6 separate regions of the Homo sapiens genome follow, and all the other regions are reported to be linked to region 1. Evidence: microRNA targets listed by miRTarBase, many of them from high-throughput screens and not tested one by one. Region 1 holds a microRNA gene; each other region holds the end of a gene's coding sequence.

Evidence for each region. Region 1 holds the annotated microRNA hsa-miR-4539 (GCUGAACUGGGCUGAGCUGGGC, at 2,471-2,492, opposite strand). A microRNA usually pairs through its seed, bases 2 to 8, with sites in the 3' UTR of a target mRNA and lowers its output. Matches are read on the target gene's strand: a 7mer-m8 pairs with bases 2 to 8, a 7mer-A1 pairs with bases 2 to 7 and ends in A, and an 8mer does both.
Region 2: the mRNA of ZNF428 is a reported target of hsa-miR-4539. Seed matches in the 3' UTR shown: 7mer-A1 at 540-546.
Region 3: the mRNA of KANSL3 is a reported target of hsa-miR-4539. Seed matches in the 3' UTR shown: 7mer-A1 at 4,102-4,108 and 7mer-A1 at 3,804-3,810.
Region 4: the mRNA of KY is a reported target of hsa-miR-4539. Seed matches in the 3' UTR shown: 7mer-m8 at 3,793-3,799.
Region 5: miRTarBase lists C8A as a target of hsa-miR-4539. The part of its 3' UTR that is shown has no 7-base or 8-base seed match.
Region 6: the mRNA of SARM1 is a reported target of hsa-miR-4539. Seed matches in the 3' UTR shown: 7mer-A1 at 2,466-2,472 and 7mer-A1 at 3,129-3,135.

Annotation. Positions count from the first base shown.
Region 1 is chr14:105,855,043-105,860,126 of GRCh38, forward strand. MIR4539 (microRNA 4539) reads right to left here and starts at 2,530; the gene lies at 2,471-2,530. It overlaps MIR4507 (microRNA 4507), which reads right to left and starts at 3,133; the gene lies at 3,082-3,133. It overlaps MIR4538 (microRNA 4538), which reads right to left and starts at 3,200; the gene lies at 3,123-3,200. MIR4537 (microRNA 4537) reads right to left here and starts at 4,511; the gene lies at 4,442-4,511. It also overlaps IGH and IGHM.
Region 2 is chr19:43,602,899-43,607,982 of GRCh38, reverse strand. ZNF428 (zinc finger protein 428) reads left to right here. Exons shown (of 3, transcript NM_182498.4): 3 at 1-759. The coding sequence ends at 366. Among named protein-coding and RNA genes, the nearest start is that of SRRM5, 6.6 kb to the left of the region's middle.
Region 3 is chr2:96,591,026-96,596,109 of GRCh38, forward strand. KANSL3 (KAT8 regulatory NSL complex subunit 3) reads right to left here. Exons shown (of 21, transcript NM_001115016.3): 21 at 2,147-4,606. The coding sequence ends at 4,586. Among named protein-coding and RNA genes, the nearest start is that of KANSL3, 45 kb to the right of the region's middle.
Region 4 is chr3:134,598,949-134,604,032 of GRCh38, forward strand. KY (kyphoscoliosis peptidase) reads right to left here. Exons shown (of 11, transcript NM_178554.6): 11 at 975-5,084. The coding sequence ends at 4,631. It also overlaps a transcript of CEP63 not described here. Among named protein-coding and RNA genes, the nearest start is that of KY, 50 kb to the right of the region's middle.
Region 5 is chr1:56,916,776-56,921,775 of GRCh38, reverse strand. C8A (complement C8 alpha chain) reads right to left here. Exons shown (of 11, transcript NM_000562.3): 11 at 3,553-4,211. The coding sequence ends at 4,060. Among named protein-coding and RNA genes, the nearest start is that of C8B, 47 kb to the left of the region's middle.
Region 6 is chr17:28,395,286-28,400,369 of GRCh38, forward strand. It overlaps SARM1 (sterile alpha and TIR motif containing 1), which reads left to right. Exons shown (of 9, transcript NM_015077.4): 8 at 620-741; 9 at 872-5,084. The coding sequence ends at 1,001. It overlaps SLC46A1 (solute carrier family 46 member 1), which reads right to left. Exons shown (of 5, transcript NM_080669.6): 5 at 1-4,428. The coding sequence ends at 4,371. Among named protein-coding and RNA genes, the nearest start is that of SLC46A1, 8.4 kb to the right of the region's middle. RefSeq lists enhancers at 396-1,079, 1,763-2,446, 3,211-3,300.

The sequences.
Region 1 (5,084 bases):
TGGCATTGGGGTGGCTCTCGGAGATGTTGGTGTGGGTTTTCACAGCTTCGCCATTCTGGCGGGTCCAGGAGATGGTCACGCTGTCATAGGTGGTCAGGTCTGTGACCAGGCAGGTCAACTTGGTGGACTTGGTGAGGAAGATGCTGGCAAAGGATGGGGGGATGGCGAAGACCCGGATGGCTGTGTCTTGATCTGGAGTCAAGAGAAGGGAGTCAGAGGTGGGGCAGGTGTGGATGTGGGCGGAGGCATGGTTCCCACCCAAAGAGTAGCAACTGCCTCTGCCGAGCCCAGGGGTCCTGCCGCCCGAGCCCCTGCCCTTGGCCGCTCTGGGAAGCCAAGGCTCAGGGAGTAGATGGCTGCATCCGGGGTGGCGAATGCCAGACCCGAGTGGACCCCTGTGTGTCGGTGGGTGCTGCCCCTGGGGACAGGTCACTCACCGGGGACACACATGGAGGACGCATTCTGCTGGAAGGTCAGGCCCCTGTGATCCACGCGGCAGGTGAACATGCTCTGGCCGAGCCAGTCGCTCTCTTTGATGGTCAGTGTGCTGGTCACCTTGTAGGTCGTGGGCCCAGACTCTTTGGCCTCAGCCTGCACCTGGTCCGTGGTGACGCCAGACCCCACCTGCTTCCCCTCGCGCAGCCAGGACACCTGAATCTGCCGGGGACTGAAACCCGTGGCCTGGCAGATGAGCTTGGACTTGCGGGGGTTGCCGAAGAAGCCGTCGCGGGGTGGGACGAAGACGCTCACTTTGGGAGGCAGCTCAGCAATCACTGCAGTGAGGGACACGTGTCAGCCCGGTGCCCGCCACTCCCGCCCCCTTCGGCTCCCTCTCTGTCCCGGTGGCTGGGCCCGGCCCTCACCTGGAAGAGGCACGTTCTTTTCTTTGTTGCCGTTGGGGTGCTGGACTTTGCACACCACGTGTTCGTCTGTGCCCTGCATGACGTCCTTGGAAGGCAGCAGCACCTGTGAGGTGGCTGCGTACTTGCCCCCTCTCAGGACTGATGGGAAGCCCCGGGTGCTGCTGATGTCAGAGTTGTTCTTGTATTTCCAGGAGAAAGTGATGGAGTCGGGAAGGAAGTCCTGTGCGAGGCAGCCAACGGCCACGCTGCTCGTATCCGACGGGGAATTCTCACAGGAGACGAGGGGGAAAAGGGTTGGGGCGGATGCACTCCCTGAGGACCCGCAGGACAAAAGAGAAAGGGAGGGTGAGGAGCTGCCTCCTCGTGCCCTGCCTGTCGGGGCTGAGTGGCGTTCTGAGTGCCCTCACTACTTGCGTCCCGCTGTGGCTGCCCCACCAAGGCCGAGCCCACCTGCAGGCCTCCAAAGCCCAGACTGTCATGGCTATCAGGGGTGGCGGGGCCGTGGTGAGGCCTCAGGTCTTTGTCCAAGGCTGCTGGGGCTGCAGGCCTCAGCCCATCCTGCTGCAGGGCCCAGCACTGAACACCTGGACAGACCTGGGGTCTCCTGGAGCAGGCTGAGCCATCCCTGCCACCATTCAGCTGGCTGCCCTGCTGCACTCTGAGGCCTGACTGCCCCTGGCTCCCTGCTCAGAATGGCTGAGGGCTCAGGTTTGGGTGGACCAGGCCTGCTTTCCCCCGAGGCATCAGCACGTAGGTGCTGCACACACTCAGCTCCCAGCACATGCAGCTGGAGGGCCCAGGTTGCATACCTGAATGTGAAGCCTGGAGCCACACACCCCGCAGGCAGCCAATAGAGTCCCTCCAGCCCAGCTTCTGCTGCCCCCAGCTCAGTCACACTCCAGCTACCCTGAAGTCTCCCCAGGCAGACAACCCAGGCCTGGGAGTGAGTATAGGGAGGGTGAGTGTGATGGGGAACGCAGTGTAGACTCAGCTGAGGCTATCCATCTATGTCCAACAAGATCATGAAGATTGGCCCAGTGCCATGTCCTCCAGTTCATCCCAGCCCAGGCCAGCTCAATCCAGTTCATCCCAGCCCAGGCCAGCTCAATCCAGCCCAGCCCACCCCACCCCAGCTCAGCAAAGCCAAGCTCAGCTCAGCCCAACTCAGATGAGCTCAGACCAGCTCAGCCCAGCCTAGCTGAGCTCAGACCACCTAAGACCATCTCAGCTCAGCCCAGCCCAGCTAAGCCCAGTATAGCCCAGCCCAGCTAAGCCCAGTATAGCCCAGCCCAGCTAAGCCCAGTATAGCCCAGCCCAGCTAAGCCCAGTTTAGCCCAGCCCAGCTAAGCCCAGTATAGCCCAGCCCAGCTAAGCATAGTTCAGCACAGCCCAGCTCAGCTCAGCACAGTTCAACCCAGCTCAGCCCAGCTCAGTGCAGCACAGCCCAGCTTAGCCCAGCCCAGCCCAGCTCAATCCAGCCTGGCTCAGCCCAGCCCAGCCCAGTTTGGCTCAACCCAGCTTGGCTCAGCCCAGGTCAGCCTGGCTCAACTCAGCCCAGCCCAGCCCAGCTCTGCTCAACCCAGCTCTGCTCAACTCAGCCCGGCTCAGCCCAGCTCAGCCCAGTTCAGCTCAGCCCTGCTCAGCACAGCACAGCAGAGCTCAGCTCAGCCCAGCTCAGCTCAGTTCAGCTCAGCCCTGTTCAGCACAGCACAGCAGAGCCCAGCCCAGCCCAGCCCAGCTCATCCCAGCTCAGCCCAGCCCAGCCTAGCTTAGCTCAACCCAGCTCAGCACAGTTCAGCTCAGCCCTGCTCAGCACAGCACAGCAGAGCCCAGCTCAGCCCAGCTCAGCTCAGTTCAGCTCAGCCCTGTTCAGCACAGCACAGCAGAGCCCAGCCCAGCCCAGCTCAACCTAGCCTGGCTCAGCCCAGCCCAGCCCAGCCCGGATCGGCTCAACCCAGCTTAGCTCAGCCCAGGTCAGCCCAGCTTAACTCAGCCCAGGTCAGCCCAGCTTAACTCAGCCCAGCCCAGCCCAGCTCAGCCCCCAGCTCTGCTCAACCCAGCCCAGCTCAGCTCAGCTCCGCTCAGCCCAGTTCAGCCCAGCTCAGCCCAGCCCAGCCTAGCTTGGCTCAACACAGCTCAGCTCAGCCAGCCCAGACCAGCTCAGCTCAGCCCAGTCCAGCTCAGCTCAGCCCAACCCAGTCCGGCTCAGCCCAGCCCAACCCAGCCCAGCCCAACCCAGCTCGGCTTAACCCAGCTCGGCTCAGCCCAGATCAGTCTGGCTCAACTCAGCCCAGCCCAGCTCAACCCAGCCCAGTTCAGCCCAGCTCATCCAAGCTCAGCTCAGCCCAGCCCAGTTCAGCCCAGCCCAGTTCAGCTCAGCTCAGCCCAGCCCAGTTCAGCCCAGCCCAGTTCAGCTCAGCTCAGCTGAGCCCAGCCCAGCCCAGTCCGGCTCAGCTCAGCCCCGCCCCACTCAGCCCAGCTCAGCTCAGCCCAGCTCAGCCCAGCTCAGCTTAGCCCAGCTCAGTTCAGCCAGGCACAATCTGGCTCAGCCCAGCCCAGCCCAGCTCAGCCCAGCCCAGCCTAGCTCAGCACAGCCCAGTTCAGCTCAGCTCAGCTTAACTCAGCTCAGCTCAGCTCAGCCCAGCCCAGCCCAGGTCAGCTCAGCCCAGCCCAGCCCAGCCCAGATCATCCCAGCTCAGCTCAGCTCAGCTCGGCTTAGCCCAGCTCAACCTGGCCCAGCCTGGTCCAGGTCAGCCCAGCCTGGACCACCCAGCCCAGCTCAGCTCAGCCCAGCTCATCCTGGTTCAGCTCAGCTCAACCCGGCTCAGCCCAGGTCTGCTCAACCCAGCCCAAATCAGCTCAGCCCAGCCCAGGTCATCCCAGCTCAGCCCAGCACAGCCTACTTCAGCTCAGCTCAGCTCAGCCTAGGTCAGCTCAGTTGAGGTCAGCTCAACTCAGCCCAATCCAGCCTGGCTCAGCCCAGCTCACCCTAGCTCAGCTTAGCTCAGCCCAACTCAACCCAGCCCAGCCTTGCCCAACCCAGCTCAGCTCAGCCCAGCCCAGGTTAGCCCAGCCCAGCCTCGGCTTAGCTCTGCTCAGCTCGGCCCTGCTCGCCTCAGCCCGTTCAGCCCAGTTCAGCTCAGCTCAGCTCAGCCCAGCTCAGCCCAGCCCTGGTTAGCTCAGCCCAGCTAAGCTCAGCTCGGCTCGGCTCTGCTGAGCTTGGCCCAGCTTGGCTTAGCCTGATACAACCTGCTCAGCCCAGTTCAGCTCGGCTCAGCCCAGCCCAGCCCAGCGTAGCTCAGCTCAGCTGAGCCCAGCCCAGGTTAGCTCAGCCCCAGTCCAGGTCAGCTCAACTCAGCCCAAACCAGCCTGGCTCGGCCCAGCTCACCCTAGTTCAGCTTAGCTCAGCCCAGCCCAGCCCTGCCCAACCCAGCTCAGCTCAGCCCAGCCCAGGTTAGCCCAGCCCAGCCTCGGCTTAGCTCTGCTCAGCTCGGCCCAGCCCAGGTTAGCCCAGCCCAGCCTCGGCTTAGCTCTGCTCAGCTCGGCCCTGCTCGCCTCAGCCCGTTCAGCCCAGTTCAGCTCAGCTCAGCTCAGCCCAGCTCAGCCCAGCCCTGGTTAGCTCAGCCCAGCTAAGCTCAGCTCGGCTCAGCTCTGCTGAGCTCGGCCCAGCTTGGCTCAGCCCGACACAGCCTGCTCAGCCCAGTTCAGCTCGGCTCAGCCCAGCCCAGCCCAGCGTAGCTCAGCTCAGCTGAGCCCAGCCCAGGTTAGCTCAGCCCCAGCCCAGGTTAGCTCAGCCCAGCTCAGCTCTGCCCAGGTTAGCTCAGCCCCAGTCCAGGTTAGCTCAGCCCAGCTCAGCCCTGCCCAGGTTAGCTCAGCCCAGCTAAGCTCAACTTGGCTCAGCTCAGCCTAGCTTGGCTCAGCCCAGCACAGCACGCTCAACCCGGTTCAGCTTGGCTCAGCCCAGCCCAGCCCAGCCTAGCTCAGCTCAGCCCCGCTCAGCCCAGCCTAGCTCAGCTCAGCCCCGCTCAGCCCCGCTCAGCCCAGCCCAGCCCAGCCTAGCTCAGCCCAGCTCAGCCCAGCCTAGCCCAGCTCAGCCCAGCCCAGCTCAGCGCAGCCCAGCCCAGCTCAGCGCAGCCCAGCTCAGCTCAGCTCAGCCTAGCCTTGCTCAGCCCAGCTCAGCTCAGCCCAGCTCAGCCTAGCCTTGCTCAGCCCAGCTCAGCC
Region 2 (5,084 bases), not on the chromosome of region 1:
AAGCAGCGCCTTGGCGGGGGCCGTGGTGGCCCATCCCGCCGGGCCCCCCGTGCAGCCCAGCCCCCGGCCCAGCCTTGCCAGCTCTGTGGCCGCTCACCCCTTGGGGAGGCCCCACCGGGAACCCCACCCTGCCGGCTCTGCTGCCCTGCTACAGCCCCCCAGGAAGCACCAGCCCCTGAAGGCAGGGCCCTCGGGGAGGAAGAGGAGGAACCACCTCGGGCTGGGGAGGGCCGACCAGCTGGGCGGGAGGAGGAGGAGGAAGAGGAGGAGGAGGGAACCTACCACTGTACGGAATGTGAGGATTCCTTCGACAACCTGGGGGAGCTGCACGGGCACTTCATGCTGCATGCCCGGGGTGAGGTGTAGGCAGAGCCCCCATACGGGGAGCTTGGCAGAAGGGGTGGGGTGGGAGGAGGGGGCTGAGGAAATTGGGGTTGTGACAGTGGTCATGGGGGATGGGGTACTGCCGGTCTGTGTTGTCTTAGAAGTAGATGTGTGATGGCCAGAATAAAAGCCAAAATCTGTATCTGTGTGTGTTGGTTCAGAGTGTGTGTGTGTGTGTGTGTATTCCCGCCCGTGTGTGTGTTTGTGTGTGTGTGTGTGTGTGTGTATTCCCCCTGGGCTCCTTCTTGGGGAACCTTGGGGTCTTTTGGGAAAGATAACATTTACTGCGTGCTTGTATTCGATGAGGTTTCCATGTATTTACTTACAGACCCCATAATGTAAAGGCTCTAATAATAGAATTTTGTTTCTCACTCACAAAATGGTGCTGGGTGAGTCATTTGGGGACCCAGGCCATCCCTTAAGCCTGTTGTCTCCCCCATGGTCCAGACTGGGTGGCCATAGCCTGGGTCCTGCTGGCAGAAGAGGACAGGATGCCTGGTGAGGTGCACGTGTTGTCTTACAAGCCCTGGCCTGCCAGGGGCACACACTGCTTCCATTGACACGCCTTTGCTGAGAAATTAGATATGTGGCCGCAGCTAACTGCAAAAACAACCTGGGAGAAGCAGTCTAGCCAAGCGCCCAGAAAGCAGAAAACAGTTCATGGAGGACAGCTAGGGCTTTCTGCCACATAGCCTAGGAACTTCCACAAAGAGGACTTTAATTATAATCACAGCTACGCTTTCTCAGCGCTTCCTGGGTATCTGGTGCCAGTCCAAGGGCTTTATATATATTGACTCATAGAAATGGTGCATCTAGGAACTTACAAAAATAGAACCTTAATGATAATTGCAGCTGCCATTTTCCCAGCACTTACAGAGTGCTGTACTTAATTTGCATGAGATTATCAGCTTCTTAGAATAACCCTGTGAGACAGGGATTGTGATCCATTAATTCATTTAACAAATATTTTTGAGTACCTGCTGTGTGCTAAGCATTGGGAACACAGCAGTGAATAAAATAAAATCGTTGTCCTCATGGAGCTTACATGGGAGTGGGTAGAGGCTGCTGGTGAAGACAGACATAAACAAGTAAGATACAGCATATGCCGGGTGCTGATAAATGCTGTGAGAACAATAAAGCACTGAAAGGAGGCCCGGCATGGTGGCTCACTCCTGAAATCCCAGCACTGAGGTGGGTGGATCGCTTGAGCCCAGGAGTTTGAGACCAGCCTGGGCAGCATGCCAAAACCCCATCTCTACAAAATACAAAAAATTAGCTGGGCTAACGATGGTACACGGCTATAGTCCTAGTACTAGGGAGGCTTAGGTGGGAGGATTGCTGGAGCCTAAGAAGTGTCGCTGCACTCCAGCCTGGGCAACAGTGAGACCCTGTCTCAAAAAAAAACCACACACACACACACACACACAAAAAAAAAACTGAAGGAAGGCCAGGTGCAGTGGCTCACACCTATAATTCCAGCACTTTGGGAGGCCGAGGTGGGAAGATTTCTTGAGCCCAGGAGTTGAAGGCCAGCCTGGGCAACACAGTGAGACCCCATCTACAAAAAATTAAATTAGCTGGGCTTGGTGGTGCATGCCTATGGTCCCAGCTATTCAGGATCACTTGAGGCTTGGAGGTTGAGGCTGGAGTGGCCTGTAATTGTGCCACTGTGCTCACTGCACTCTAGCCTGGATGATGGCAGGAATTTGTTGCAAGAAAAAAATTTAAAAAAGGACTGAAGGGAGAACTGTTCTGGAAGGAGGTTGCAATTTTAAAGAGTATAGTCCTCCCTGAGAAGGTGACAGATCTGAAGCCGGGGGGAGCCATGTACATCAATGGGGAAGAGCACTTCAGGCTGGAGGAGGCAGGAGCCTGCCTGGTGTGCCAAGGAGGCGAGAGCTGTAGGGATGAGGTCAAAGGGTAGCAAAGGACCAGCTCTTTACAGCCTTGCCAAAACTTGGGCTCAGAGATGGGAAGTACTAATTCGTAATTCACAGAAGCTTGGCGCCGAAGCTACTTTGAAAATAGAAGCCTAATTATAATAATAGCTATCATTTACTGAGAATTTACTGGGCAACCAGCCCTGTTCTAAGGCGCTTTACATGTGTTAACTCATAGAAGGTTGGAGACTAAGAACCTTCAAGAATAGAACCTGAATTACTGTAATGGCCATCATTAAGTCAGCGCTCACGGTGGACCAGGCCCTGGGCTCAGTGCTTTATGTGGACAGTCACATCAGATCCTTACAAGTTAGGGACTGTTACTTGTTTACTCATTCACCCAACAATGATTTATTGAGCACCTATGAGATGGCAGGCACTGCTCTGGGAGTTGGAAATATAGCAGTCAACACAATGAACAAAAACCCCCTCCCTTTGTGGAGGTTATAATGGGGAAGACAGTAATCAAGTATTTAAGTAAAATATACAAATTGTGGCTGGGCGCGGTGGCTCATGCTTGTAATCCCAGCACTTTGGGAGGCCGAGGCGGGCGGATCAAGAGGTCAGGAGATTGAGACCACGGTGAAACCCCGTCTCTGCTAAAAATATAAAAAATTAGCTGGGCATGGTGGCGGGCACCTGTAGTCCCAGCTACTCGGAGAGGCTGAGGCAAGAGAATGGCATGAACCCGGGAGGCAGAGCTTGCAGTGAGCTGAGATCGCGCCACTGCACTCCAGCCTGGGCGACAGAGCGAGACTGTCTCAAAAAAAAAAAAAAAAAAAATACAAATTTTATGGAATGTTAGTCATAAGTGCTATGGAGAAAAAGGAACAGGGTGGGAAGCTTGTGTGTGTGAAGGTTGCAGTTTTAAGTAGGGTGGTCAAGGAAGGCTTCACTGAGATGACATCAGAGCAGAGACCTAGAGAAGGGGCAGGAGTGAGCCTTGTGGCTGTCTGTGGGGACAGTAAATGCAATGGCCCGAGGTGGGAGCCCACTTGGGGTGCTTGGGAAGAGAACACAGGGCCACGAGGCTGGAACTGAGGAAGACAGGTAAGAGGTGAGGTCAGAAAGTAGCGGAGAACCAGGCCGTAAGAGCCATATACTGACTTTGGCATTGTCTCCAAGTCTGAGTCCTCACAGTAATCTGAGTGCTCATAATAATCCTTAGAGGCTACCTTTATGACTATTTTATAACTGCTACAACAGGCCAGGCATGGTTGCTCATGCCTGTAATCTCAGCAGCTTGGGAGGCCAAGGCAGGTGGATTGCCTGAGGTCGGGAGTTTGAGACCAGCCTGGCCAACATGGTGAAACCCCATCTCTACTAAAAATACAAAAACTTAGCTGAGTGTGGTGGTGCGTGCCTGTTGTCCCAGCTACTTGGGAGGCTGAGGCAGGAGAATCGCTCGTACCTGGGAGGCGGAGGTTGCAGTGAGCCCAGATTGCACCACTGCACTCCAGCCTGGGCAATAGAGCAAGACTCCGTCTCCAAAAAAAAAAAAAAATCTGCTACAACAGAGGCACAGGGAGGTTGAGTTACCTGCCAGAGGTCACAAAGCCAGTAAGCAGCAGAGCCCTGGTTTGTACCCAGACAACTGGATGCAGGTGCATCCACTCTTAACCACTAAGCCACACACCAGAAATGGCAGTCTAGTGCCCACAGCCACCATCTGACTTAGAGGAGTGTATCTGGTCTCCACAGAGCTATTGAATTTTTTTAAGTTACGTTGGTTACCAATGTTGAAAAATGGGTAATTTCACATTTAAAAAAATTGAAGTTTCTGGACTGTCTCGAAAATTGTGAGATCTATATTGCTGAACCCCCAGTTCCCATGGGGATAGTGGTTTGTTGGTGCTGAGAAGGAGTCACTTTCTGTAGGGGAGGCATTCACTCTTATGTGCCCAGTCACCAATGCCTCACATCTGGACACCCCTACCCTGCCTGCTTGGCCCTGAAGAGCATCTGCTTTTTTTTTTTTTTTTTTTTTTTTTGAGACGGAGTCTCGCTCTGTCGCCCAGGCTGGAGTGTAGTGGACATGATCTCAGCTCACTGCAGCCTCTGCATTCTGGGTTCAAGCGATTCTCATGCCTCAGCCTTCTGAGTAGCTGGGACCACAGGCGCGGTACTACCACCCCCGGCTAATTTTTGTATTTTTAGTAGAGATGCAGTTTCACCATGTTGGCCAGGCTGGTCTCGAACTCCTGACCTCAAATGATCCGCCCGCCTTGGCCTCCCAGAGTGCTGGGATTACAGGCGTGAGCCACCGTGCCTGGCCAGCATTTACATTTTTGACACCTATTACAGGATTTCAGACCAAAGCATTTTTCAAAACCCACGTTTCTCATCCCAGAATCTCCAAACCTGACATTGATACACTCTGAACTGAGACTTTCCTAGCCACTATAGCTTAGCATCATGGAACCTCAGAATCATCAGCAGAAATTCCAGGCTCATTAAAACAACAGAGTCTTAGTCCGTTTGTGCGGCTGTAACAAAATACCTGAGACTGGGTAATTCATAAAGAGCAAAGGTTAATTCCTCATAGTTCTGGAGAGTGGTTAAGTCCCAGGTCAGGGAACCAGCAGATTTGGTGTCTAATTAAGGGTTGCTCTCTGCTTCCAAGTTGGTGCCTTCTTGCTGCATCCTTACACAGTGGAAGGTGGCAGAAAGGGATGAATGCTGTGTCCTCAGATGGTAGGAGAGATGGAAGGGGAGAAGGCCTAGCTACTTCCCTTGGGTCCTTTTCTAAGGGCACTTATC
Region 3 (5,084 bases), not on the chromosome of region 1:
ACCACTGCACACAATTGCCACAGTAGCTTTATCTGTAATAGCCCCCAACAGGGAACAAACTAGATGTCCCTCAATAGGTGAATGAATTGTTACACAAACTGTGCTAAACCCATACCATGAAATACCACTCAGCAATAAAAGGAATGAACTACTCATATACACGTAACAACTTGGATGTGTATCAAGGAAATGATATTGAATGAAAACAAGACAATCTCAAAAGGCCATGCACTGTAAGATTCTATTTATACATCAACCTATTTAGGACAAGTAGAAGAGATTAGTGGTTGCTAGGGTCAGGAATGGTGGGGAAGGAGATGGATGCAACTATAAAGGGGTGGCATGAGGGAGATCTTTGTGCTGATGGAACCATTCTGTATTTTGTTTATGGTTACAGCGATAAAATGACATAGAACTATACACACACATTGTACCAACTTCCTGGTTTTAATTTTGTATTATAGTTAAGTGAGATGTAAGTACTGGGGAAACTTGGTGAAGGGTGTTATACTATACTACAATTGCAGGTTAAAAACACACATATCTAACAGTCCAGCAGTGTTTTGCTTTGTTTAAATCCATCTACTTCTCCTTAGAAAAGTAATGATATGAACCACATGACTTCATCTTCTGGATACTATGATTGGACTGGGTGGGAAGAGATAAGGAGAACCAACCCACAAGTGAGAGTGAGCCAATCAGGCTGTCTTCAGAATTTGAACTGAATGAAAGAGACCAGCCATCCATAAAGGGTTCTGCAGCTAAAAAGTCCTGTGACAATAGGATCAAAACTGGATCCCGGCAAGTCCAAGCCACTTGAGGTCACGAGGCAAGTACCAAAACCGTGAGGCTCCTTGTCTATAAAAATGCCTAATGAGAGAATATTCCCTTTCAGAGCTATTTTGGTGGTGAATAGGTTTCTCCTTCTTGCAGCCATCAACCCTGACCAAAATGTGTGCTTGAAAAAGACATAAAAAGGTAAAAAAGACTTGTCTGCATCATTATTTGCTATGGCCCTGTCCCCATACCCCTGAAGTTTCAGAGAGCTGTCATTTTAACAATCTAATCCTCATCTCGCTTGACCTGACTGCTCAAGTCAGTGAGACTAGAGTTTGAGGGAGAAGACAGCAAACCAGATGTCTACTAAGGAGGGTAACACGATGTGCCCAGGTATACTGGACACTCCAAGCAGCATACCAGAACTATGGCCTCCACCCAGAGGGCTCCAATGCCAAGGGTAGTGACCTGGAATTTAGGGGTTAGAAGGAAGGTCCTCCTGAATACAAGTTAACAAATAATCTAGAGGTTGGAATTCATTCATTCATCTCTAAATCTTTATGTATTTATTGGCGGTGGGTGGAGGTATAGGAAGTGCGAAAGGATACTGATCTTTCAGGATCAAGGTTGAGGGACCCCACCTACTGACGTAGGCTCAGCCAAGAGCCCCACCATATCAACATCAATTACTCTTGGCCTGGTGGGAAGTAAACTGAAAAGGTCACGTGCAGGCCAAGCCACCATCTCCTCACCTCCTGGGTTAATCTCTACCTCCAGTCTCCCATCTTAGAACCCTAGCACAATGCAGAGTAGAAAAGACACTGACATCAGACTGTCTGGGTTCCAGTACTGCTTCTGCCATTTCCTGCTGTTTTGACTGCTCTGTGCCTGTTTCCTCACTTATAGAAAGGAAATTACAGGCTGGGTGTGGTGGCTCACGCCTGTAATCCCAGCACTTTGGGAGGCTGAGGCGGGCGGATCACAAGGTCAGGAGTTTGAGACCAGCTTGGCCAACATAGTGGAACCCTGTCTCTACTAAAAACACAAAAAATTAGCTGGGCGTGGTGTCGGGCGCCTGTAATCTCAGCTACTTGGGAGGCTGAGGCAGGAGAATTGCTTGAACACAGGAGGCGGAAGTTGCAGTTAGCCAAGATCGCGCCATTGCACTCCAGCCCAAATAACAATGCGAGACTCCATCTCGAAAAAAAAAAAAGGAAATTACAGTACCCCCTCATACCACCTGGCATTGGTGAGGTGATGATCACTGGCCTTACAATATCTTAGCTCTACCTTTGGTGCCCACTTCATTGGGTGGTTTCCAGAATACATATGAGAAGTCAACTGAAAAGAAGCTGAAGCAATCCAAATGTTGTTTTTGGTGTTTTTAATTGTTTTTGTTAATGTAAAAACAGAACCATCACAGCCGCTCAGCTCTATAACCCATCCAGCCCAAGACTGTTCTAGTGGTGAAACCAAGAGTAGACAGGTCTTCCTACCTCAGTGACCTCAAAACACAAGGACATCTCCATAGGGCATCAACATGCATCTGTCATCCAAGAATCTAAGAACTTCCTGATCCTTCCACATTTTCTATCAATAATATTGCCTTCTGAGGTTATGGATTCCAGGTCTTCTATGAAATAGGTAAAGCTTCCTTTCGCGTTCCAAGAAATATAGTTTGCGAAGGGAACTGGAAAACGTGACTCTAGGCCTCAGCCACTTCCTCTGTTACCCTGTGCAAGTTGTAGAACAATCCACGTTCTCACAGCTCCCCTTCTTCAGTTGTGGAGTTCTTCAAGGTGGACAGATCACACCTCAGGAAGTCATCCCTTGTAAGCACACTAGAATTTATCATAAAGGCAGGTCGGCTTGTTAGTTTTTCTTTGTCCCCAGCATACACTGAGCCAACAACTTAAGTCATGAATGGGTTGTTTAGGGCTCTGTCTGTCCTAAATGATTCCTAAAAGCTTCATATAGCTCATATAGTCTTATTGTCCACTGCTCTTTTGGTGTGGTATGATCCTACCTGTAAAGCTATCAAACCCCTGGGTCCTGGATGCCTCCTCCAGATTTCATACCTTCCTCAAGTTTACTAAATACTTTCTGAATTTAAGAATTTTGAGAAAGTCACCTACCAGCTAATGCAAAAACACAGCCTAATTCTGTGTGAATCCCTGTTGAGATCAGCTTTTCAGGTCAGGGAGGGAAGGTATGGGGTTTAGGGTACCCTCTCCTATCACACACATCCCCCCTGCCCACAGTACCCTGACCTACCTTGCCTGAGACTCCTAGACACTATGAGCTCCCTTCTGGCTGCCACTCAGACTGGCCAGGAAGGCTCCCAGATTGAACACAGGTGACCTGGTATAGATACACACTGTACTGTGGGCCAGAACCATGGACTACATTTTAAGCCATGTTGTGGGCCCTTCCTGCCTACAGAAAAGGACACTTGAGTGGAGTCACACTTGGGTTGCCTAATTTATTACCTTAACTAGAAACATTCTAAGTATGGGAGCCTGTTCTGGAGGATAGCTTCTAAACCAAATCTAAAACTATCTTTGCACACAAGTGTTGTGAAGAGGTAAGCAGGGGATCAGAGCTCCATCTTCTGTGACCACTTCTCCAGGGACTGCCACCTATAGGGCTCAGGTTGGTACCAACAGCCCTGCATAGTAGAGTCACTGTCAATCATCTTCCCACTTGTAAGCAGGAAGACAAAAAGTCTCATGAAATAGAAACGAAAACACTGAAGCATGGCCTTCATCGTCCTAATGCCACAAGTTTCCTGGGATGGCCAAGATACTACCTTAGCTTATTGTCCCTGCTTCACCTCCAGAGACTGGAGACAGAGGATTTTCCGGGGTTGGGGTTTCTTCTCTGACTTGGCAAATTCTTCTTTTTATCTCCAGCTGAACCACCAGTTCCTTGGGTAGCAGAGCAGAGACCTAAGCACAAACCACAGGGCTTACTAGCACATCCTTCAAGCCACTTCCTTTGCTGTTCTATTACTCTTCTTCAGCTTATCTGAACCTGCGGACTCTCTGGATACAGAAACTGCCCAAAGCATGGTGAAAAAGACAAAGGGCCCAGGTTTCACCTGGCAACCACTGCTCCCAACATCTAGAGTAAGTCAAAGAGGCTGAAAGATGACAGCCTAGTTCTCTTTGCCTTCATTATGATACTAACAAAAACCAGAAGTTTCCAGGAGTCAGCAAGCTACTCAGTATCTGACGTGGTTTCTAAGGTGGAGTTGCATGGGGAGCACTCTCCCGTGGCTGCTGAGTGAAGGCAACAGTGATGTCCAAAACAAGCCCGTCCGGCTCTGAACCACCAGTTGGCAGGCCAGGATGACTCCAGTCTTTAGCAAAGAGCTTTCCATTCTAACTCCCGAAATCCCAGACCAGATGGATGTCTCCTCCCAACTAGGCGCAGAGGGTAGCACAGACTTCCAAAAGGAAACACCTTCATTAAATGCAGCAGGCAGTCCTATATGCTGACCCTTGGGTCAAACCACAGCTTAAGCGGGGGAAGAAGTGGTTCTGATCCATGTACAGCCAGATCTGCTGAGGAGTCTGGGGTTCCCAGGAACCAGATTTGCAGATCCTGGACGATGGTGCTTCCCTTGCTGGCACCGTATCACCTAACCTAATGGTTTCTCTGAAGACAGTTGGCGGAGAGGCAAAAATGACTGTCTTAAACAGGTCTTCCGACACGTGGACAGCTCAGCAGGACCACACACCTGTCCAGGGCCCACCATGAGGCAGCCATCACCAACTTGGTAAGGAGGACATATCACACAGCATCTTCAGGGTGCTGGAGGCAGGCGCTGTGGCAGGAGAGGTAGTGAAGAAGGGTCAAAGCTTTGACAGGTTATCATCATATTCAGACCCTCTATCCCAATTATCCCAACTCCTGAGAATTTATTTTAAAGAATTAATTCTCAATAGGAAAGAAGTTGGATACACAAGGACACATGTTCTAGCTGCCAAGTGGTTAACAGAACATGGACTCTAGAGTGAGAGACTCAACTTTCCACTTTTTAAGGCAAGTGCCTATGTTCTCTGAGCCTCCTTTTCCTCGCCTGTAAGAGGTAGATGACAGCATCTACTTTCCAGGGTCACCGTAAGGATTAAATGAAATAATCCACATAAAGCTCCTGAGTTTAATCTGTGCTCAACAACAAAGGTCACCTCATATTATTACACATGAAGACAGAAAAGGAATGCAGAAAAAAGGAAATAGGTGAGTTTTTAAGGGCAACAGAACAGAAGGGAAGATTTCCGTGACTTCTGATTTTGAGGCCT
Region 4 (5,084 bases), not on the chromosome of region 1:
TCTGCTGGGCTTTCTCCAGCCCCTTGCCCTCAGGCAAGAGAGGAGCCAGCAGTGCAGTCTGCCAGGGGCTCCAGGGGCAGGCTCTTAACACAGCAGGGCCCTTCAGATGTTCCACAGCAGGGCCCTTCAGATGTTCTGTAACTGACAACCCCAGGCCCACTGCCTGCCAGCATCTGTTCACAGAGACACGGCATCACAAACTCTCCGGACTGGAAGGGACATTGGAGGTCATCCACTCCAGCTTTGGGGATGGCATTTTCAGACTGTTCTAATAACTCAAGAGCTACTCCTTCTTTTGTGTGGAAGACTGTTTCTTCTGACTTCCTCTTAATATGCTGCCGGGTCTCCTTCCTAAGGAGAAGCATGCTGGGCCTCGTTTTTGTGGATCTAGCAGCGAGAGACATGACGAAGCCAGATTTGGGAACACAAGTTCTTTTTGTCCTTCACACTACAGCTACGAGAATGGTCTCCATGGTTACAGCAGCTTCTCAGAAATGTCTGGATTTTTCATTTTCTGTATTTCTCTAAATGTCTAGTTTATGAATAATCTGCTTAGGTGACCGGCTGGAAAGTTTCTGCATGTATATGAATATCAAGAAGTACATATTTATATACATTCAAAAGAAAAGTAGGCTGATAGGCATTTTTGGTAATTTTTTTTCTCCCACTGTAAAAATAAATTAGGATTGACTTTAAAATTTTCAAGTTAAACAAGATTCAATGAAAGAAACAGTGCCTTCGTGTTCTTCAAAGGCATGTGAACCATAGAGTGGCTGGAGCTAACCTGATTATGTTTTCTTTAATGTGAAATAGCTATTTGCCTGACATTCCATTCGCATCTCACCGTCGCATTCAACTGGCTGGGACATTGATTTTTTTCTAGGGCTTCCTTTGAACATGAAAGCATTTTTCCTGTTTCTCTCCATTTCCCACCTTGTGAGATACATGATAAGAATGAATCGATAATTACATTGTTGGATAAAAATGAATATAAATTTTATTGAAAAACAACACCAGCAACAACATGGAGAAAGCATACTCAACAGCCACCGGCCCACACAACTCAATGCACACATTATGAGAAGTAATCACCTCTTTCAATTGCCGACTACTTACTCCAAATGAAAAGAAATTATAGACCTAAGATAAACTGAGGCGGGCAATAGAGGCACACCATCTTCGAAAATTTTGCCAATAGCAAATGATGTAGTGATGCTGTTAACCCTCTGTTTGCTGCAGGCAGACCAGGATATCTCAGGAATTAATTGGTTTGGAGAGGAGAAAACCCACTCCTTCTAGTGAACATGGCATCTAAAACCTCAGACCACTGGGAAAACTTTTCTCCTTTTCAAGTCCTTTGAGAAGAGGATTTCACAAACTTTCTTGGCAACTTGTCCCTCCTGCTTAACAACAGGAAATAGTTCTTTATGTCTAGCCGAAATCCTTCATGCTTCAGTTAGTCTATTTATTTACTTTTAATCTTAGCAGGCAGTGAGGAGGCTGTCCTGGTAGGACAATGTAACATATGGGGAACTCACAATGATCATAATCAGATTGAAAATGGAGTCCAGCTGAGCTATGGCACTTCTGAAACAAGCTGGAAAGAAGTGTACTGAAGTTGTGGTTGTAGTGCCTCTGCCCACCACTCCTCCACCCTCGGTTCCCTTCTGCCCTGTGGCCTGGGGGCTGCCATCCTGAGAATTGCAAGCAGATACTTTCTGAGTTTGATCGGTTCCAATCCTTCAATGGTATAGTAATGAGTGTAGTCACAGCTGTTCCATCCAGTCCTATGTCAAGTGCTTCTGTTTCAAGAAGTTATTTCCAGGCAAAACAGTCCCATCACATCCCTTGTCTTTTCAACACACCAGGTTGTCCCCCAGGATGCCCTCACAGCTTGTGCGTGACAAAGATGTCCTCCGTGTACACATAAGGTAGCGCTGAGAAGCCACGAGAAAGCACCTAGTGATTTTAACATAAACATTTCCACAGCATTTTCAAGTTCTGCGAAAAAGCCCGGTGATAGATCAGCCTCGCGGTGTGCAGCGCCGGCAGCTCCGCACTTCGGACACCTGGGGGCGCCCGTGCCATTCCGCCGGCGACTGGGACTCGTCGCCCGGGAAACAAAGATGGGGATTTAAAGAAAAGCCTTCAAAATGCAACTCCGAATGTCTACCCTGAGCAGCATGCGTGTAAAAATTCATGAAGATTAGATTTCATTTCATGTATTTTTACTTCAGTGGAAAGAAATGCAGGTGATTTTCTGACTGCGCCTACAGCTGTCTTTACAAAGGGGGTGCCTAGTTAAACGAGAGGGAGGGGCTTGCTGATGCCCTGCGGTGCTTTGAGGGGCGGGGCCTCCCTCTCTGGTGCTGGGGACAGCTCCTATTTTGCTGGGTGGCATTCTCTGCAATGCTCCAGGATGTATTGATTAATTATATTGCATATCGAAAAGGTATGGGGGTCTCCAGCAGGACTAAGCGAGGCAGCCAGCGCGGGGTCCAGTGAGTGACATGCGTCATCGAAGGCACTTATTGTTTTGATGAAACAAACACATTTCTTTAAGCCCATAAAATCAGAAGTGTGCAAGACGGCTGTTTTCAGGGTGTAAAACTCCCTTTGTTTCCCTGTGGTGGTGCATAGCTGTTATGCCTCCGGGGCCTTTGTGCATTTTTCAGGTGTGAGTGACACGAGGCTGGCTGGGTGGCCTCGGTGGCAGAGACTGCGGAGGGCGCAGGACCTGCCCAGGACAGTTCAGCCCCCCAGGGGAGACACCCCTTTTGCTCGAGGCCGCCGGCCTGTTGGATGATGGGCACCCTTGTGAGCTGGTTCTGGGCTAGGCCACCGTGCTGGGTGGCAGTGGGGACTTTTAGGGGAGGGATCCCGGGGGATAATGAACAGAAGTGTCTGGAGCCTGGATCTTCAGTCAGGCCTGGGCAGGGAAGGCTGCTGCTGCCTGGCAGTTTCCTCACCCTGTACTCTGGATGGCAGGGGCCGGGCCCCCTTGGTTCACCTCTGTAGCCCAAGCATCTGGTACTTCTGTGAGCATTTGTTGGATACAGGGATGTGAGGGTGAGTGCCACGGAGGAAGCTATGAGGGTCCCAGCTGGCCCTGGCTGTGGTTGAGCCTGGAGGCCTGTGGAGGGGCTGTGGGGAGAGGTGCCAGGCAGTGCTGGCTCTCAGGGGTTGGGGGGCACTGAGACAGCCAGGGGCCACGGAGCTGGAGAAGCCGGGAGTTCAGCAGGGAGCATGTCTGTGTGCCAGGATGGTTCTGCAGTGGCCATGTGGGGCCTCTCTCGCCTTTCCCTCTTATCTGCCCTCGCTGAAGTCAGCCTTTCCTCCGTTGCCATGGCAACGGCAGCCTGAGGCGCTGCTGAGGGCCAGCTGGGCAGCTGAGGCCTCTCAGTCTGTGCCTGAGCAAGCAAGGAGCCCTGAGCTGTCCCCATGCAAGGTGAGACTGGAGGGGGCTGTCTTCTCAGAGAAGGGAGGAAAGGAGACGGGATAGGATGTTTTCTCCGAGACAGGCACAAAAGCTGCTCTCGTGCAGCTGGAATTCTTCCCAGCCCTGGCTTTGCTGGTAGAGACACTGGGGGCAGGCAGAGCCCTGTTAAAGTGTGAGTCTCCTCGGCATTGCCGCACTGCACTACTCACCTGATCTGCGCCCAGGTCCTTATTCAGGGCTATCCACAAGACTCCCCAAGGGCCTGGCCAGCCTCTGGAGGCTCTCTGTGGAGGTGGGGCAGGGGCCTGAGGCCCAGGCTCTGTGAGGGCCTGGAGGGCACTCCAGGCCTTAGACTGAACTACCTGCCCTGTGTACTCCTCTCAGAGCAGAGCTGGAGGTCTTACACCCTCAGACCAAGGCTGCAGCTCTGCCGACAGTGTCCCTCCCACCTGCACAGCCACAGCGGGCATGGGCTGCTCTTTGCTTTGCAGTCTCCTCACAACTTTCTGGTTGTCACATTCCTGACTATACTTAGGGATGTTGGAGACGATCAGCTTCCAGCCAGTTGTGGGTCAGCTGGCTTCCTCACCACACCCTTTTTCTTGGGCTCTTGAAGAACAAGAAGTAGCTAATGAAGAGGCAGCAGGATGCAGAAGATGATCAGGTCTGGGAGGAGAAGATAGTCCAAGATTCCCTGGGGGCTCGGAGCTGTCGAGAGGCACGGTGATATTGCTTGAAAGGGGCTCTGTGATTCAAGGACAACCCAGCCTTGCAAATCATGTCCCCTTGGGCATGGAAGAGAATTCTCTAAGCATCATGTGAAAAGCTGTCAACCTGGGCAATATCCCTGCTTTCCCTCATCAACCCTACAGCAACAACAACAGCAGCAGCACTAATACGAGAAGGGGCATCTGGATGCAGGTGTACAGTTTACAATACCTTAGATTTACATAGCACCTTTTCCTTCTAAAGAGCCACTGCCTCTGCCCCCTCAGTCACAGCCACACCTGAGTGAAGCCTTCAGAACACAAAGATCACAGCTCCTGTGGCAGAGGTGGGACACTGAGGCAGAGGCCTAGAAGGGATTTCATGCAGACTCAGTGGTGTCCAGGGCTCCCTGCACTTCCTTCGAGCCCTCCCTGGGGAGGTCTGGCCTTGGCCCTTTGGGAGGGTAAGACCGGGGCACAGCCCTCACTGGGCATTCACTTTGTATTTCAGGATGTAGGAGTAGAAATTGTGGTTGGCATTCTCCAGCACCATGACATAGACTTCCTGGCAGCCAGCTGTGCTGCAGCTTCCCTCCCAGTAGCCCTCGTGGTTCAGGGTCAGGGGCCATGTGTCCTGCCCCTTCACCAGGACTTTGGCAATACCATGCAGCTTCAATTTGAATGGGACATTCCGGTTGGCAGGAAGCACACCTGACAGAGGTTCCAGCAGCTCATTGTCCTGTCCCCAGTTGCCAAAGCTCTCAGGGAACATGGGCCAGTTCACCTTGGTGTTGGCACAGCATACAAGGTAATTAAAGACGAAGATGTAGTTTCCTGGTTCCTGCCTCTTCTTGACAAAGATCTTGAGGGCAAACTTGCCTGCATGGGGCAGCTGGACTTTCAGCTCGGTCTGCTTCTCCCGGTGCAGCTGGAAGATG
Region 5 (5,000 bases), not on the chromosome of region 1:
TATCTCCTGGTTTTCCAGCTCTGTTACTTTGCACATTTCCCCTGCACAATCGTGCCCCTCCTTCTGCTTTCTTTGATGCTCCAACTCTCATTGTGTCTGAGATTCTGCTGGCCATGTCCTGGCTGCCTGCCCTGCTCCCACAGCTGGTTATCCCCCACAGGTCCCTGGGCTTCCTGCTGCCTGGGACCTATTGCCATTGTTCACAGCTCTCCTTTACCAGGCTGCATTCTTCCAGGGATGGGACCATGTCTGATCCATTTCTGAACCTCCAGCACCCAGCATGGGGCCTGCACAAGAGATCTCCAGAGAGTATTTTGCCCATTTCTGATGTGAAGGAGTATCACCATAAATTTTCTTCATGCCTTTCCTCTAATCCGTATCACATCCCCTTCCTCTCATGGCACTCAGTGGCTTCACTTTGCCATCTCTCATTTCTGCAATGTGGCTTTTGAAGCCTACCCTTTCTCTCTGTCCATTTTCTTCACCCTAAAGGCATATAGTTCAGAAGAGATTCATTGAGTGCTGAACTCTTTAGATCTTCCTTTCTCACAAAGAAAAAAAAAAAGAAAAAAGCCTCTCCTTATTGCTTTTTATTCTGTCATTAATTTACTTTTCAAAAGACACCTTGTCAAGCTGAAGATTATATCTTTAAACCATGTATTTACACCCACTACCTATAAAACCTTAGATTATAGATCTTCTTAAAAGACCTAAGGGAAAATGCATTGGATGAGTTTTATGCTTTTTGCTTTGTGAGAGCCAGTCATTCTTGAAGAGGGAAAGCTGCTGATGTAATAAAGGGTTGCTATGCTTGAAACTGCCACTGTATTTTAATTTGTAAAGCTTTTGGGGATGTAGCATCCTCAGAGGAGTGGGACAGATGCTGGCTTGGGTTCTCTGGCTCAGAAGACAGGAAGACAGCATTGCTCAGCTGGTGGTTTTGGCTCACAGATGATCCAGGCAATTACTTAATCTCAAAGTTCTCATCTTTTGCCCAGATTACTACACTTACCTCCTGATGAGCCTCCCTGCCTCTGGTTTCCTCCCCTCCCTTGTGCCCCACACACTATTCTCCAAATCCCTCCACCAGCAGACAAGAGCAAAGGGTGGGTGGAGGAAATGGAAGCGTGTGTTTGATGTGACGCATTCAAACCCTGGCCTGCTCTGTGACCCATGAGGCTCAACCTTGCTGAGATTCAGTTTCTTGGCTGCACAATAGGACATAGAAAACAAACCTTAAGAGATCTTGCATAAGACTAGTTAAAATAGCACAAATAACTTTACTGTCCCTGCCTTTTTGTTTTGTCACAGACCCCATTCCCCATGCAGGTATAATGATTCCTCCACTCTCAGGAGCCTCAACCTTGGCTGCACTTGGAATCACCTGAGGAACTTTTAAAACTAAGGATGTCAGGCCGGGCGCAGTGGCTCAAGTCTGTAATCCCAGCACTTTGGGAGGCCGAGGTGGGTGGATCACCTGAGGTCAGGAGTTCGAGACTAGCCTGACCAATATGGCGAAACCTCATCTCTACTAAAAATACAAAAATTAGCTGGGCATGGTGGCGTGCACCTATAGTCCCAGCTACTGAGGAGGCTGAGTCAGGAGAATCACTTGAACCCCAAAGGCAGAGGTTGCAGTGAGCCAAGATTGTGTCATTGCACTCCAGCCTGGAGACTCTGTCTCAAAACAAACAGACAAACAAAAAAACCCCAAAAAACTATGGATGTCTGGTCCCTACACCCAGTGATTAAGATTTAATTTGTTTCGGGTGCAGTCTGTAGACATCAGGGTTTTGAAAACTGCTCAGGTGATTGTAACATACAACCAAGTTTAAGAACCACTGTTTTTTTAGGTCAAGATCAAACGTTCTCTTTAAAGTGCCCACGTGGCCTGGCATATTTGGCCCTTGGTCACTTTCTAGCATGTAACTGCCACTACTCAGTAAATAATGAATGTAGGTTAATTATTAATGTAAGTTAAAAAGTAAAAAGCAAATTAATGACAGGATGAAAAGCAATAGGAGAGTTTTTTTTCTTCTTTCAGGTAGAAGATCTAAAGAGTTCAGAAATTAACTTCTAAATCACATTCTTTAATTAATAATAGTCTTAATAATGATGACGATAAGCATGAGGGTAATAATGTCCTGTATGACAGGCATAGTGCCAAGTGTTTTATATGCCTTATTTTATTTACATGCATTATTTTCCTCACTCCCCTTTCCTGACACATACGCACCTGCATGCACCCCCAAATGTCTTTCTCACTTTCAGACTTTGTCTCATGCCGAATTTCTGTCTGAGAGATCTCCTCCCAGTTTGCCTAGTTGAAAAGTCCTTCAGGGCCTGGGGCAATCCCCATGCCATCCACAATATACACAGTAATGGAAAGGTAAATCTCTCTCCCACCTGGCCTCCTTCAGCACTTACTTTGTGTGCTACATATTTTAGCATTAACTCAACAATTAATTTCCCTAAAACCTCCTCTAGTTGTTTCAGGTACATAATTCTTATTCTGACTTTAACAAGATTGAGGACTCTGGAATGACTTGAAGCATCAATATATATGTTAGTCACCAGACATTTCTTGAGTACCTACTATACACTAGGATTGTAGATTTGGCCTTCAAGGAGCTCAAAATCTAATAGGGGAAACTGATGGATAAACAGAAAATTCAGTGCTACCTAACATGTTCTCTATTTGAGGCATGACTGGAGGGCTGTGGGATTCTGAGGCTGGCTGGTGTGATTGGCCTCCCCTAGAGATGGGTCAGAGAAGGCGGATTGATCGTCACTAGTTGGCCTCTTCAAATCCACTCTCCACTCTGGGAGGCTGACCAATGTGTACCTCATCTATGAACTGACTCTTCAATTCATTCACTTATTTAATCACAGCTACTTACTAAGTCCCTGCTACATTTAAGGCACAAGCCTGACCTCCGGGGCTACAGTGCTAAACAAAAGAAGCCTGACTTCTGCCCTCAAGATTATTATCTCTTAGGAAGAGATAGGTCTTACATAGTCACAGGAGATGTGGGATTAAATATATATGCTATGATCTGAACATTTGTGTCCCTTCAAAATTCATATGTTGAAATTCTAACCCCAAAGTGATGGCATGAGGAGGTGGGAAATTTGGGAAGTGACTAGGTCACGAGAATGGAGCCCTAATGAATGGGATTAGTGCCCTTAAAGAAGGGACCTAAGAGACTGCCTAGCCCCTTCTGCCATGTAAGGACACAGCAGTAAGACAGTCCTGTAAAAACTAAGAAGTGGGCCCTCACCAGACACTGAATCTGCCTTGATATTGGACTTCCCAGCCTCCAGAACTGTGAGAAATAAATTTCTGTTGTTGATAAGCCACCTAGTTTATGGCTTTTTGTTATAGCAGCCCAAATAGACTAAGATAATATAATTACTAGTTGTGAAAATTGCAATGTAGGAAAAGAAGTGTTCCATGAGAAAATAATCAGGAGAAATGTCACATTTGTGGTAAGAACTTAAGGGAACTAGAGAGATTAATTGAATTAATAAACGAGTTCAAATGAAGGCAAATTGAAATAACTCAAGTCAATTTTTAGTATTTTTCTCATTGTTTCAGAGTGTCTGCTTACCCTACCAATTAATAATGTTTCTATGAGTGAACAAATTGTTATCAAAGAACTAAGAGAATTTTCATCCTACTTTGTTTTATTGGGCGTTGATTGTTTCAGGTGTCTGCTTGTTTTGTCTCTAACATCCTGTAAGTTCTCCCTGGTCATGGATTGAGTTTTCTCAGTTTTCTATTTTACTTTATTTTTTTGATGATCCAAAGTGCTGTAAGTAGGACAGAGCTTCTAGTTAACAGTCAACATCCAGTTGCTGAATAAAATGATTGAGTTTTGTAACTAATAGAATAGTTGGCTGTAGACAGCAAAACCTAGTCTTAGGCCTGGAAGCTGGCAGAACAAAGAAAAAAGTGTGCTGATTTGCATCTTCTCTTAGTTGAAAGAAGTCTTTATCCAATAGTCAGTGCAGGGGTCGACATCCACAGCATCTGGTCCAGCCTGTGTCCAGAGGCCCTCAGCAAGCCTGCGTCTGTACTTTCCGCCCTGGACACGAGGCCCCTCCATTCTGAGGTGCTGGATTGTCACACTCTCTTCTCCTTTCCTGGATGCCTGCTCTGCATACAGACCAGGAGCTCCAGCAACTCCAGCTCCCATCTGCTTTGGCTCCTGCAGAGGAAATTTCCCAGGGAGGAGAAGGTTAGCATATGGCTAAGAAGGAAGGGCCTGTCTGGTGATGAACAGGGAGGGGTGTGTGGCACCCTTGGGAGAGGAACTGGCCTCCCCTCCTCTGGTCGACTGCAGCTTGTTGGAGGTACGTACAGATAAGGTACATAGGGTCTTTGCTCCTTTGTTAGTCCAGATGTAGCAAGGGCAGTTTCACTGCAGAGACCATGGCAGTCAGGCTATTAATTGCCCCTGGGGGCTCTGTCCAGGGAGTTGCAGAGCTGCTACTGAGGAGGGAAGGCCATCCTGTTGCCTGAGAGTGGTCTGCAATCCTCCTTGGGGAAATGCCTTCAGGTAGCCAGCCAAGACCTCTGTGCTCACTGCCTTGCACTTAATTTGAAACTCTGGATGGAGTGAGAAGAGGCCACTGGGAGCCCATCTCATTAAATTGGAATCCGCAGTTCCATGGAAGATGGATAGCGGAGGGAGGCAGGAGGTGTGCTCCCTTGGAAGAATGACACAGAGTCAATGGAGGGTGTGAAGAGAGGGGAGCACCGCCCTCCTGGGGAGTCAGAGAAAAGGTTTGGCCAGACACCTCCCTGGAGAGGATTGCTAAGCTTTTGTATGAGGATCTGCAAATCAAACCCCCTCAGATTCTGGCAATGGAGCCGCAGAGGGTGACAGGCTGTCTGCACAGAGCATCTGAACACATGCACTGACCATGGACTATCTGGAAATCTAGCTCAGAGAATTACCTAGCCTGGGGCTCCGCCTGAGTTTTGGATGCTATCA
Region 6 (5,084 bases), not on the chromosome of region 1:
ACACAGCTCAAGAATAGCCAAATGGAAGAGATACATAGGATCTCTACGTATGGAGGGTGGAGGTGTGGATGCCATGCCTTCTACCACCTTCCCAGCACCTACACCTGTTTATCAACCTGGAGGCTCTTCAAAACCCCTTGTTTGGGGGTTTTTATGGAGGTTCCATTATGTAGGCATGATTGATTAAATCATTGGCCATTGGTGATTGAACTCAATCTCCAGCACCTCTCTGGAGGCTGGGAGGTGGGGCTGAAAGTTCCAATCCTCTAGTCATGCCCTGGTCTCCCTGGTGACCAGCCCTCTTCCTGAAACTATCTAGGCTACCCCCATAGCACCCCCCGGGCCCCCAGTGGGGAATCATCTCTTTAGCATACAAAGACACTCATCACTCAAGAGATTCCAAGGGTTTTAGCAGCTCTGTGCCAGGAACTCTGGGCAAAGGAAAAATATTTATTTTTTATTACACTACAAGGGTTAAGGTAGACATCAAGGTGGACATCAGGACTGGTGTCCTGCCCTGGGCCCAGCCTCGGGCCAGTGGGCCTCCCAGCACCTGCCTGGCTACAAGGGTCCCTAGATGGGTACAGGGGTATCTTCCTCCTTTCCTTTCTTTCTCCAGGAGATTGTGACTGCTTTAAGCTGCGGCAAGAACATTGTGCCCATCATTGATGGCTTCGAGTGGCCTGAGCCCCAGGTCCTGCCTGAGGACATGCAGGCTGTGCTTACTTTCAACGGTATCAAGTGAGCCCCAGGGCCCTGGGACCAGGGGGGTAGGGTACAAATCACCATGACAGGCAGAGTGTGGGCAAACAGCTGACTAGCAGCTCCCTCTGCCCAGCTGTCTGAACCACATTGGCTCCTGTGCCCACAGGTGGTCCCACGAATACCAGGAGGCCACCATTGAGAAGATCATCCGCTTCCTGCAGGGCCGCTCCTCCCGGGACTCATCTGCAGGCTCTGACACCAGTTTGGAGGGTGCTGCACCCATGGGTCCAACCTAACCAGTCCCCAGTTCCCCAGCCCTGCTGTGACTTCCATTTCCATCGTCCTTTCTGAAGGAACAGCTCCTGAAACCAGTCTCCCTGGGCTGAGACAACCTGGGCTCTTCTTAGGAAATGGCTCTCCCTCCCCCTGTCCCCCACCCTCATGGCCCACCTCCAACCCACTTTCCTCAGTATCTGGAGAGGGAAGGGAAGTCAGGCTTGGGCACGGGAGGTTAGAACTCCCCCAGGCCCTGCCATTGGGTTGTCTGTCTCCGTCATGGGGAGGGTCCCTGCTCAGTTCTGGAGACACTGGAGTTGGGGTGGGGGTGGTTCTGCATTCCCTTCTCCTGCTGATAGCAGTCAGCTTGAGGAGGATGACGGAAGGCAGCCTCAGACAGGAATTAAGGCAATGCCCAGGCGGGCCTGGGCACTGTATTCTGAGCAAGGGCCTGGGCCCAGGAGCCAGCCAGGGATGAGTGCCATCATGGCTCTCCACTCAGACTGTGCCTGGCCCCTGCACTTACAACTTCCTGCCGCTCTGTGGCCTTGCCCTGTAATCACTCAGTGCCCTTAGCTAGCCTGACTAAGTCCCAGATCCCCTACAGCTTCCTTCGGTGTGGTATCTTTTGCCACATCCAGGGCGAGGGTTGAGGCAAACCAGCCCTCCCTCTGACTTCCTTGTCACTGCAGCCAGCTTTGCTGCACTTGCTGGTGCACAGGAGCCTCCTGTTTGGGCCTGGGTCTGGGCATGGGGAGGCCGTGCCTCAAAGCCCACCCTACCCCATGCCTTGGTGCTGTGCCTCAGGCTCCTTCCTGGTCTGGCCCAGCTGGCTTCCCCAGCCCCTCAGCCATCCAGGGCTACCCACTGCTTACTCAGGGACCAGGCAGCCCCCATGGCAGTAAAAGCAGCCTAGACAGAACCTGCAGCTCTGTGGAAAGAGGCAAAGTCCTGAAAAGGCAAAGGGTTGTCACTTAGGGCAGCTTCTCCAACTTTAACATGCATCCAAGTCACCTGGGAATGTTGTTAAAATCAGGAGATCTGGGGTGGGGCCTAGGACTCTGCATTTCTTACAGATTCCCAGGTGAGCTGATGCTGGTGGTTAAGGGTAGCAAATCTCTAAAGCACGAAGCCCTCACAAATCTTTGCCATTTCCCAAACACTCCGCTCCATGGTCTCCAGTCATCAGAGCAACTCTACCTGGTATTATCATCCCCATTTTACAGATAATGACACTGAGGCTCAGAAAGGTTGAGGATAAGCCCACTTTCCTGTCATTAGTGGCAGCCCCAGATCCAGACCTAGGCCTCCTGGCACCCAGTCCACTGGCAGTGGAATTGCTTTCCTGAGAATCATTCTGAGGCTGGGCTATTGCTTCTCCCTTGCTTCAAAGAATCTAGCAGCGGGGGATAGGATTTTGCAACAAAAAGCTGACCCAGAGGCCATACAGAGCAGGAATATCCCATTGCCCCCTCCTCCACTGGGTTCAGAGGGTAAGAAAGCACCCTCCAATAAACCCAGGCTCCAGGCCGTGGGGGCTGCTGAAGGCTCTTTCCCCGCAAGGGCCAGGTGTTGACACCTTAAAGCTGGCTGCGCCCCCAGCCCCACTCTTGGCTGTGCTGGCCAGGTGACTCCTAGTTCTTGGCCACATCATCAGAAAGTCAAAGGTCTCACTCCAGGTTTGGGGCTCCTTCCTTCCACTCCCCTCCCTGCCAGAGTCTGTCTTGGCCAGTGCCAGCCTCGATGCTTTGGTTTTGACCCCACCTGATCCTCCTTTCCTCATGCAGCACAAGTGCTCACCGGGGCCAGAGCCAGGGCATGGATATGACAAGCAGGGCAGCCTGGACACTGCCCTCACAGGACAGCGCCAATAACAATACAGTGTCTGAGTATCTCCAGGGGATGATTTCTGGCTCTTTGTCTCCAATCAGTCCCACTCCCTCCTGAGGTCCCCAAGGGCAGTATTCAGAGAGGTTTCCTGCGTTTTATTTCTATTTGGTATACCCTCCACTGTTGTCCACTGCCCTGTGTGGCCTTCTGGTTGACCTCTGCCCGATCTTCTGTCTCTCTGAGGGAATCAGAGTCCAGCATCCAGCCCCAGCTGGAACAGCTGAAGTCACAAGCCTCCTCTAAGCCAAGGCCAGTGTGTTCAGAGGTGACTGCCACCCATACTAGGACAAACACAGCTCAGATCACCAGGTCAAGCACCTAGGCCTGGCTTCTCCTGAGACAGAGGACTCAGAAGTGGCCTTTCCTCCAAAGCCTGCTCAGACACAGGTCTGTAGGGCCAGGGTGTTCTGCTTGGCTGGGCTGCAGCTGCTACCCCTCGGTTGGGGCTGAGTCAGCCAGATCCTCCCCCTACTTCTCCCCAAGGGCCAAGAACTGCTCAGGGACATTAAAGGTCAAAAGTCCAGCCACACTCATTCATCCTTTCCCCAGGCCCATGAAGAGAGGCATCTCATTGTAGAATGTATGAGGAAGTGGGAAGTATCTCAGAGAATCAGCTAAGTTTCCTAACTTGTCCATCCAAATGTGATCACCACGATTCAACAATTTGGGGCATTGCTGATCTAGCCGTTCCTAGTGGGGCTTGCTCAAGGTTGCACAGCGAGTCAGTAGAAGCCCTGGCTGGCCCCACTTGGTACCAATCCACCAGGCAGCTCAGGGCTCCTGCCCAGCCCAGCAGCTTCTGTTGTCTAACGTATGGCAGGCAGACTGGGAGCAGGAAAACAGAGGGCCCCAAAGCCCAAGGCACCAGAAGGTTTGTTTCAGTTTGCTGAAGCTGATTTGTAATGATTGGCACTCTTCAGCCAGGGGAGTGGGTAGGCCATAGCCAAGGATCGATTCCCCAACCACAGCAAAGGCAACACTCTTCCTCCAGAGATCACCAAGCCCCTCTTACCTCCCTCCCTCCTTCCCAAGGCTGGCACTAACCAGGTACCACATTCATTGTTAAGGAATGGCTGATGACTGCTACACGTGTTGGGAACCTGGTTGGGGCTGTGCAGTTTGGGCTGGAAGGAGAGATGCCAGCCCTCGTGCTGCCTCTGGTCCCTGAAGTGTCACCTCTCTCAGGACCTCTCCTCTGGCCTGTGGGGTTATAAGTGATGGATAGCAGAAAGGGAGAACTGACTCCTGTCCCAAATAGCTCCTCTGCCACCTGTCCTGCAGTGGGCCTGTGTGGGTTATGATTCTAGATCCTAGACAGAGGCTGGGTCAGCTGTGGATGGGGTGGTGCCTTGGTCTCTCTTGACTACCTCGTCCAAAGAGAGCACTGCCCTTAGACAAGAGTTGCTTGTCCTGCTGTGGGCTGGGCTTCCAGCTGCAGACCTCCAGTTGCTTGGTGTTCACTTTGCTCCTCTTGCCCTCTGTCTTCTGGTCCAGGCAGATCAGGGGCTCTGGGGAAACTGCTGGAACTCGAGGTGAGGATCAGCCTTTTCCAGCATCCTGTGAGAGACCAGAGAGAGAGTTTGGATTTCATGTGGGGAACCCTCAAGGCCTGTCTGGAGAAGTGACACAGGATTTACTGGGGTGGGCTGGTCCAGGTAGCTCTCCTGAACCTCCTCCTTCCCCAAGCTGAGAAGCTGAGAGCTGGAGGACAATATCCAGGGACATGGCTCTGGAAAATAACTTTTTTTTTTTTAAGAGACAGGGTCTTGCTCTGTTGTCCAGGCTGGAGGGCAGTGACATAATCATAGCTCACTGTACCCTTGAACTCCTGGGCTCAAGTGATCCTCCTGCCTCAGCCTCCTTAGTAGCTGGGACTACCAGTGCATACCACCATGCCTGGGTGATTTTTTAAATTTTTTATACAGACAAGGTCTTGCTATGTTGCCCAGGCTGATCTTGAATTCCCGGGCTCAAGTGGTCCTCCTGCCTCAGCCTCCCACAGGATCGGGATTACAGGCAAGAGCCTCCACGCCCGGCCATGAAATATAATTCTTAATATCATACAGGAAAAAGTCAGCGGGTCAAGCTAGCCTGTGGCCCAGCCACAACTAGCTGACAAAGCTTCCTGGCCTTCCCTTTAACACAGTTCTGCTGCCATAGTTCCATCTATAAAATGGGAATGGAGGGAAATAGGGGAACTGGGAGAGAGAACA